Linked DNA regions of Homo sapiens: region 2 is linked to region 1. The links come from fine-mapping of genetic effects on gene expression. A gene starts in region 1. The other region holds a variant in brackets. All regions are shown on one strand. Distances are from middle to middle.

What was found. PIP is the estimated chance that this variant, and not a neighbour inherited with it, causes the effect. A credible set is the group of variants that fine-mapping cannot tell apart.
Region 2: its variant is the best candidate, but not a certain one, in a credible set for the expression of GBA2 in whole blood (TOPMed, PIP 0.90).

The regions. Positions count from the first base shown.
Region 1 is chr9:35,746,800-35,751,186 of GRCh38, reverse strand. It overlaps GBA2 (glucosylceramidase beta 2), which reads left to right and starts at 1,959. Exons shown (of 17, transcript NM_020944.3): 1 at 1,959-2,841. The coding sequence starts at 2,483. RGP1 (RGP1 partner of RAB6A GEF complex) reads right to left here and starts at 1,900. Exons shown (of 9, transcript NM_001080496.3): 1 at 1,779-1,900; 2 at 1,316-1,450; 3 at 808-944; 4 at 446-529; 5 at 198-347. The coding sequence starts at 1,431. RefSeq lists silencers at 1,611-1,660, 1,691-1,740, 1,861-2,260.
Region 2 is chr9:35,804,911-35,809,297 of GRCh38, reverse strand. It overlaps NPR2 (natriuretic peptide receptor 2), which reads right to left. Exons shown (of 22, transcript NM_003995.4): 13 at 3,628-3,787; 14 at 3,313-3,468; 15 at 3,065-3,233; 16 at 2,760-2,906; 17 at 2,152-2,275; 18 at 1,900-1,968; 19 at 615-789; 20 at 445-543; 21 at 51-142. It also overlaps a transcript of SPAG8 not described here. Among named protein-coding and RNA genes, the nearest start is that of SPAG8, 5.2 kb to the left of the region's middle. The variant GGCCCCAGCT/T (reference allele first, on the strand shown) is at 1,885.

The DNA.
Region 1 (4,387 bases):
TGAGATGGCTAAAGGTAAGGGGTGCCAGGGCTGAGGTTTACATCTCTATCTCCAGAACCCTCCCTCCCTTCCCAACTCCCTAGCACTGTCACTGAGACCAGGAAGTTTCCCTGCAGTCCCTCTTGCAAGCCCTCTAAGACAATTTCTGCTTTGGCATCGCCCTTCCCCAGCCCTTCCCTCCAGGAGCCCTTGCTTACCAGTCAGCACAAGAACCCTCAGAGGGACTCTGAGTAAAGTGATAGGGGAGTTGACACGCTGGCAGCCAATGGTCAGTTTGTAGACGTACTTGACTGACTGACCCCGAAAGGAGGGTGGTCCCTCTATGGGCAGCACTTCACTGTAGGAGTCTGGTTGGGAAGTAGTTGTCAGGACAGCCAGAGGCACCAGAGGAGTCCTCCCTCCAGGAGACTTAGAAGGCAATTCAGGGATGGGGACAATCACTCACATGATTTGGACTCTCCAGGATCAAGCCTCAGGTCACAGAATAGAATTTTCGGTGGAGTAGAAAGGATACACTGGCCCCTCTCACCTGAAAAAGGTAAAAATGACTAATTTAATGACCCATTGTCCAGTACTGAACAAGACTAGCACGGCAAGTGGAGATAGTGAAAGGCTGCCAGGCCCTCCGTCCCTGCTGTGAAATGGGAATAGTCTTCTACCCCTAAAGCAATAGTCATGCTCCCCAACATCCCCAGCATGACAGGGACTATAAGAACAAGAACAATTAACAACTTCACCCATGGGTGACAATGCCTCCACACACACCCTCCGCACCCCCCCTCTCCCAGGCAAATGCCCCTCTCTAACCTCGGTGTGGCAGAAAGACAGTCTGGCTGTCGGGCTGGACATCTGGCTGACTAGAGTCAGGAGGAGGCAGTGCTACTCGACTCTCACTGGCATGGAACTGGCAGTGGATTTGGGCACTGGCCCAGGCCAGGGCCTCACTGTGGGAAAAGGAAAAGGAGGCATCAGAGGTAGTTCCTGACCTCACAAATGCTTTCCCAAGCTCCCTATCACACCATCTTAACCAACAAGGTTAGATGGCTGTCCTAGTGATCAGGAAATCCACAATCCCAAAGAGAAACCATTAAATAAAGAGTAGCAGACTGTGCGTAAAAAGGGGAACGGGGGAGGGGAAGGAAAGCGTACAGCTATGTCATCCACATCTTCTGTTAAAGAGCCCTCTCCTACAATGACAGCACAGTGAGCAAGAGGAGGTGGTGTCGCTACAGGACAACCTGAGCTCTGCCTCAGCCCCAGAGATAATCTGGCTTCTTCCCAGAAGGGCCACCACCTTCAGTGCCAGCATCCCCACCTGGATGCAGAAGTGGCCGTGGGCGGAAGGGGGTTGGTGACGGTCACTACACACTCCAGCGCCTCCCCAGCCAAAAATACAGGACCCCGGCTGAGCTCTGCTACCACTTCAATCATGGCAGCTCCGGAATCAGATCTAGAAGGAAACAAGGCGGGGCGGAGGTCAGCACCTTGACAGGGAGGGGCGTTGCGGTGAGCACCTAGGGCTGAGGGCTGAGGACAGGGGTGGTCAGCACCGTGGTGCCCGAGGGAGCTCCTGGATATAGGAGGGGTAGGCGGGTGGGAGGGAGGCGACTGAAGACTCAGTACTGCCCAGGGGGAGGACATCGCTCTGGGCCCTAGACCCCAGCCCCTGTGCGACGGGTTCTTCTCCCTGGGCACCCCCGCGGAGTTCCCAAACTGGCCTCCGCTCCCCCTTTCCTCAAAGTTCCACGTCCCAGCCCAAGATCACCGCCGCTAGTCACCTCGCATAGTCGACACTAGGGATCGGCACCCCTAGGCCTCATCTGCCCGCCCCTCAGGGACCTGGCTAGGTACGCGGCGGCGGCGGCGGCGGCGGCGTCCGCTGGGCGGTAGAGGCGGGACTTCCCTTCGGTCCCCCACCCTCCGCGGAGTCCCTTCCGGCCGGAAGCGCCCGGCAGGCCAGACCGGAAAGGGCTCGGGTCATCCCGGCGCCCAGGGTCACCTTCCCACGGGCTGGCACCTGGGCGCGGGCGCTGCCCCGGAGCCGGCCGGCGGGACCTGGCGCCCAATCCTGGGGGACCCGGTGCCGTGGCCCAGGGGCCGGGCCGAGGTCCCGGGGGCGGTGCCTTGCGGGCCCGTCCCGGGGCGGTGCCTGGTGGGCTGGCCCCGCGGCTCCTCCCCTCTCTGCGGGCCCAGTCGCCCTTTGGCCGGGCGAGCTAATCGTCGGCTCAATGACGACGAGGCCCGACCCTTCCCGTCCAGGACCTACAGAGACAACCGAAGGAGAGCCCAAGGCGGCTTCTTTGCTGTCGCCGCCCCCACTGAAGCAAGAGCTCCCCGGCTCCACTGAAACACCAGCTCATTTAAGCTTTCCCCAACGCCCGGCCCTCCGGGACGATACCTAACAACGACCGGCGCCCGCATCTGGAATAGGCTGGCGAGATACTTAGTATCCGAGGGCTCGGGACTTGGCGCCATCGAGGTCATGGGGACCCAGGATCCAGGGAACATGGGAACCGGCGTCCCAGCCTCGGAGCAGATAAGCTGTGCCAAAGAGGATCCACAAGTTTATTGCCCTGAAGAGACTGGCGGCACCAAGGATGTGCAGGTTACAGACTGTAAGAGTCCCGAAGACAGCCGACCCCCAAAAGAGACGGACTGCTGCAATCCGGAGGACTCTGGGCAGCTGATGGTTTCCTATGAGGGTAAAGCTATGGGCTACCAGGTGCCTCCCTTTGGCTGGCGCATCTGTCTGGCTCATGAGTTTACAGAGAAGAGGAAACCCTTTCAAGCTAACAACGTCTCCCTAAGCAACATGATAAAGCATATAGGCATGGGCTTGAGGTGAGTAGACCCCATTGCCTAGAATGCCTTTGGCTTCACTTTGTTCCAGCTCAAAACTTCTAGCAGAGGTGGGAAAGGGCAAGAAAGCAGTTGGGCTTCTTGTCTGAGTGAAGCGGTCCCTATCCCTGGCATATTTTAGGCCTGTGGTTTTGGACCGTGAGACCAGGTCACATCTCTTTGCAACACCCTTCCCTCCCAGTGTTTTGTCTTTTCAGAAGGAAAGGGTAGGAACATTTGGTCATGCAATCAGCCTTTCCCATTCAGGCTCTTCTCACATACTGGTTTCCAATGACTTCCCTTTGGGATTAGCTATACTTTGTGGCAAGGTAGGAAAGGATAATCTGGCTGCTGTGATACTAACACAATGTTGTTTTATTTGGGGGTGGGGGGGTCTCAACCCCTTATTTCCCACAAGCAGCTGGGGCATTCTCTGTACCTCATTAGACACACTGTTAGAGTCCCAACACTACTGCTTCTTTCTTCAAGCTTTAGCTCCAGGGAGTAGGTAAGAAGAGCCTCCCTGCCCTCACCTCTGAAGTGATGAGAAGGTGCTGTCATTCTGTTCTGGGATAGAGAGCTCTTGATATTAAGTCATTTATCAGAGAGGCACTGCCATAGATGTAGAACCCATCTAGATCCCCACTGAGTTCAAAGACTAGTGATGAGGAGCCAGACCCATTAACAGGAACAGGTGGATGTGAGGACAGAAAGCATCACCCTGAGGTCATCCTGACTCAGTCTACACAATACACACAGAACTGTGGAGGGAGGCATAAAGCTTGGGAAACCCTGCCCTTACAGTTTCTAGAGTAGGAGACCCTTCATTTCCCCAGTCAGTGCTGTGGGGCTGTGATGGGGAGATCAGTTATCTAACCCTAGCCCTGGGGAGTGGGAAGGGCCTGATGCTGCCTGCACATCTGGCTTTGTTGGTGCCTGTGGGTAGCCTGTAGCAGAGAAGAATCATCCCTCCAGGCTGCTTCTGGAATCAATTCAGTCCAAGTTTGACCCCAAAAGTTTTTGCATCAAAATAGGATCTAGTGTACATAGAGAAGTACACTGAGTTGCATGTGGTAGGAACAATGAGATCAAGAAAAGATGGGCATCCTAGCCTCTTAGCCCTTAAATATGAACTGAGTCATAGAGGCCTGAAGCTGTGCTCAACCCCCTGGACCCTGGCTCCCCATTCCAGGATAGAGTGGGGGGTACTGATACAAGGCTTTTGGAATAGGATGAGTTCCTATGAGGAGAAAGCACAGGTGAGACAAGAATTCTAAGTGATAACTCTTGAGTTGAGGTTGAAATTGTGGAGAAGGCCAAATAGGTCAGGAATGGCCAGCTACCATATTAAGGGAGTAAGAGAGCTCCTAAGATGGAGCTGAACTGTGGGCACTCTGACCAGGAGCTCTAGCAAGACAGAATTCTCTGGGTCTTACCTTCGTAAGAACTCAATTTCAATTGTTCTCCCTTCCAGCCAGAGTCCACTCATTCAATAAATATTTATTGAGTGCTTGTTCCATGCCAGATAGTCCTTTGTTCTGTCTGTCCT
Region 2 (4,387 bases), 58 kb before region 1:
TCACTTTCACCCTCCCTTTCCATGCCCCCCTCCCCATGGCCTGCCATCACCTTCATTTCCACATCCCCCCGAAGCTCTAGCTGGAAGCATCCTAGCTCATCTAGGGCATCCTTGGTGGTAGAGGAGACATGGATCTTCAGCGCTGGGGTGGGTGGAATGGGGAGGATGGTGGAATGAGGAATCAAAGAAAAGGCAATCAAATAATTGGTGATACTGTATAGCACCGTGCCCGACCAACCATCCCTGGGAAGCTCCCAATGCATATCTATTAGGACCAAAATATGCCCAACCTCCCAATGCATATCTATTAGAACCAAAATATGCCCGAGGATGCGACACTAAGGAACTGTGGTCTCTCAGATTAAGAAATTGGAGGGATTATGAAAAGAAGAAAAGGGCAAGATAAATTGAGGCCAACAGTGGGGTTGAGGGCTAATGTCTTACCTTGACCATTAGACTCCATTCGAGAAGCAGTGTTCACTGTGTCTCCAAAAAGACAATAACGGGGCATCTTCAGGCCAACAACCCCAGCACAGACTGGCCCTTTGAGAAGAAACAGGTTGGGAGAGTCTGGGAAAGGTGGAGACTAGGGCTGGAGTGAGAGTCAGCCTTACCAGTATGGACCCCTATGCGTAGCCTCAGCTGGTCATGGGGTCGGTGGCGGATGCGAAAGGAAGAAACTGCATCTAGTAATGCTAGGGCCATACGAGCAATTTCTGGTGCATGGCGTTGACCATTTCGGCCTGGGAGGCCAGATACCACCATGTAAGCATCCCCAATCGTCTCCACCTGATTGAGAGGGGGATTAAAAGGTCACCTCTATTTATATCCATGGGGATGGGAAAAAGTAGAGGGAGACAAGCTTGACACCATCATTAATCATCCTGACATGCTGGAGACCAGAATATTGACTAGAAAATAAGTGCCATGGTCCTGAGTCTAGGGGAGAGGAGATGTCTAGGGAATCTTTAAGTCTTCTTTCTCCACCCAGCACCTGGTGAATACTCAGTAAACATTTGCGGAATGAATGAACACCCTGTCTGCAGCAGGACATGGACAAATAGGCTCTGCCATCAGGAAATGGGAAGCAAGAAAACGGTAACTCAAGAGGACAGAGGCTGGTGAGGAGGTAAAGCAGGCCCAGTGAAATGGACCTGACAGCCCAAACTGTCAGAGAGGAGGAAAGCAGGCATTTGATTTTGGTAATTGTGCCAAAGCTATGTAAGAGAATAAATGCCATTGTTTTAAGGAAATACACAGTGAAGTTTTTAGGAAATACACACTAAGTATTTAGGGATAAAGTAGTTATCCCTAAATAGTAGTCTGCCACATGCCAAACAATGTTAGGTACTTTCCATACAACGAATCTATTATTCCCATCTTACAGATAAAACAACTGAGGCTCAGGGAGATTCTGTGACTTACCTAAGGCCACACAGTTAGCAACAAGCCAATATTCAAATCCAGATGATTTTTACTCCCAAGGACAATAAATCCAACTCAATAACTTCAACAAAAAGTTTTACTTTTTAAAATATATTTTCCCTCACCCCACTAAATCAGTCTGGACCCACATCCTATATGATTCTTCCATGTCTGGAGAGGACTGGAGAGAAATGTTGGATAGGCTGTATTTATACTCCAGGAAGATAGGAGCTAAATCTCATGATGGTTCTGATTAGGGAAGTCAAAGGATTCACAAGAAATTCGACTGGAGTGTACAATTATAGTGCTGGAGCTACATCTGTCTACGAAGTACACTCCAGCACCAGGATGCTGAGTACCCTGGAGGGAAAACTGATCATGGGGTGGGTAAGGTGTGTGGGGTTCAGGGAGACTGAGTTTCAAAGCGGGTCTCTATTAAAGGGTCTTCTATTGAACAGC[GGCCCCAGCT/T]CTCACCTTGTAGACATCAAAGTTGTCAATTATGGCATCAAAGCAGGTATACAGGTCATTAAGAAGTGTCACTACCTAAAAGGGATAGAAAAGCAGAGGCCCTGAGACTTGTGCCCAATTTTCTAAGAATTCTTAACCCACAAGCCATCAAAAGATGTGGGAACTCTAGAACAAACTCATCTTTCCTATTATCAATGAGGCTTCCCCAGGTCCCTACCCACCCAACCCCACCCGCCACCTCTCACCCATGGCTCTCACCTGCATGGGGGTGCTCTCTGCTGACAATGCTGTGAAGCCAACAATGTCACTGAAGTAGATGGTAACACTGTCAAAGGCCTCAGCCTGTACAGTCTCTCCCCGTTTTAACTGCTCTGCCACTGAACTAGGAAGCAAGGGTGCCGTATGAGCCAAACTCCAAGAGAGCAGGAGTGGAAGAGAGAGGGAAAGTGTATGTGGCTGCAGCAGAGATGAGCTGTAACAAGAAAGCTAGGCTTTTCAGGTGGGAGGGAGGAAAGTGGCTGGGAAGACATTACAGTCTAATGCAAGGTAAGGCACACAAGTGGCGGGGGGGTTTGAGGGGAATCCCTGTGCATGGGAGCTGTCTCAAGTTGGGACTGTTTTACATACACTTGCTGAAGCAAGGGTGTGGTAGAGCAGGGTCTTAAGAAGAAGGGATGGGCAGCCAGTAAGAAGGCAGCATAGCTGATGTGGAGACAGAATGACAGCAAATAATCTATAAGCAGGGGTGCTCCCTGTGGCCAGCAGGGTTCTGAGGGTGGGGAGGCGAGTTCTCAGGTGCCTGATGAGGCAGAGCCCAACAGAGCAGAATCCCAAAAGAAAATACAGGAAGGGGGACAAAGTCTCACTGGGGTAGGATTTGGTAGAGCAGAGCTTCAGCCTTGCGTTTTTCCTCCAGATAGGCCTGTGTGCGTTCCTCCACCAGCTTCTCCAAGTTATTGGCATACTGTTCCATGCGCAGCAGGAGGTTGTCCAATATGCTGGTGCCACCCTCCCTAGAGGGAGGCCAGGATAAGGCACTTGCTCTAAGATTCTGAAGATTCCCAGGACTTCCTATCCAACCCACCCTCTGGTCCCACCTGCCCCACTTCATGCACTAGGACTAATGAGTCTTCTATCCCTGGGAAGCCCCTGCCCCATAATGCCCTCTCACTTGTTAAAGCGCCGAATGAAGCCCTTAATCTGTCCAAAGTCTGGCCGCTCAGCTGGGTCCTGAGCCCAACATCGCTCCATCAGCAAAACTAGCTCTTCATTCAGTTGGGTCCGGTCAATGCTTGGCCGGAAATATGGCCGCTGACCATTTCGTACCTTCTGGACAATCTCTGAGGGTGATCAAAGGTTTGGATGAAGAACAGAGTTCCCCCAGGAAGAAGAGGCTGTGGGTAGTGGATTGACTCTTACCTTTGGGGCTGAGGTCCAGGCCCTCCAAGTAGAAAGGACCACTGCGAAGTGCTATCTCCTGCAGGATGATCCCAAAGCTATAGACGTCAGCCTTCTGCATGCCTGTGGTTGGCAAGGGGTTCCCACTGAGCAGTTCTGGGGCAGTCCACAGCTTCTCTGAAAAGAGGAAACCGGCTGGCCAGGTCCCCCGAAATGGGGCACCCCCAAGCCCACCTGGGCTCATCCCTATATTACTGTCACTCCACCTCCCTCTCCCACCATCCCTAGGTGGAAAGAGGAGCAATATAAAAAGTGGGTTGTGGGGGTGGGCCTCACTGGCATAGAGGGCATGGCTGTCATCAGGTTCAGCAGTTGATCGGAAGCTGGCCAGGCCATAGTCTGTGATTTTGAGCACAAAACGACTATCCACCACACAGTTGGAGGACTTGAGACTCCCATGCGATGAAATAATGCTGTTGTGGAGAAAGGCCATGCCCTGCAGGGTACAGATCAAGTCATGGGATTGGATCATATCTGGCTTAGAATACCCTCTCTCCATGAGATGGGCACTGGCTAGCTGTCTACAGATCTTGGGTCCACAAAAATAATAAGCTGATTTTGGAAGGCATCCTTTGCAGTTTCCACCCAAGGAAGCAGGAAGAACAGAAGAGTCATCTGTTCCTGGTATCATAAGCAGGACACAGGCACCCAGCCACCAGGGACAGGGAAAATGCTTAAAAAGAGGGATAAGTGGAGCTACAAATGACTACCCTGGAGAGGGCAGTCAATCTTCTTGATTAGTGAAGAGAACAGAACTTGGGTGAAGACCAAAATGATATAACACCCATGGTGGCCTCAGATACCTGGCTACTAATTAGGAAGACATGACTTGAGACCCAGGTATCAAGAGTAGCTGGATATACCAAGGAAGACCAGTTGTAAACTTTAATGCATAACCAGGCGTAGGTGGGCAAGTCGGGGTAGAGGAGGAACAAGATCTACTAGAGGGAGGTGGGCAGGTCGGGGTAGAGGAGGAACAAGATCTACTAGAGGGAGGTGGGCAGGTCGGGGTAGAGGAGGAACAAGATCTACTAGA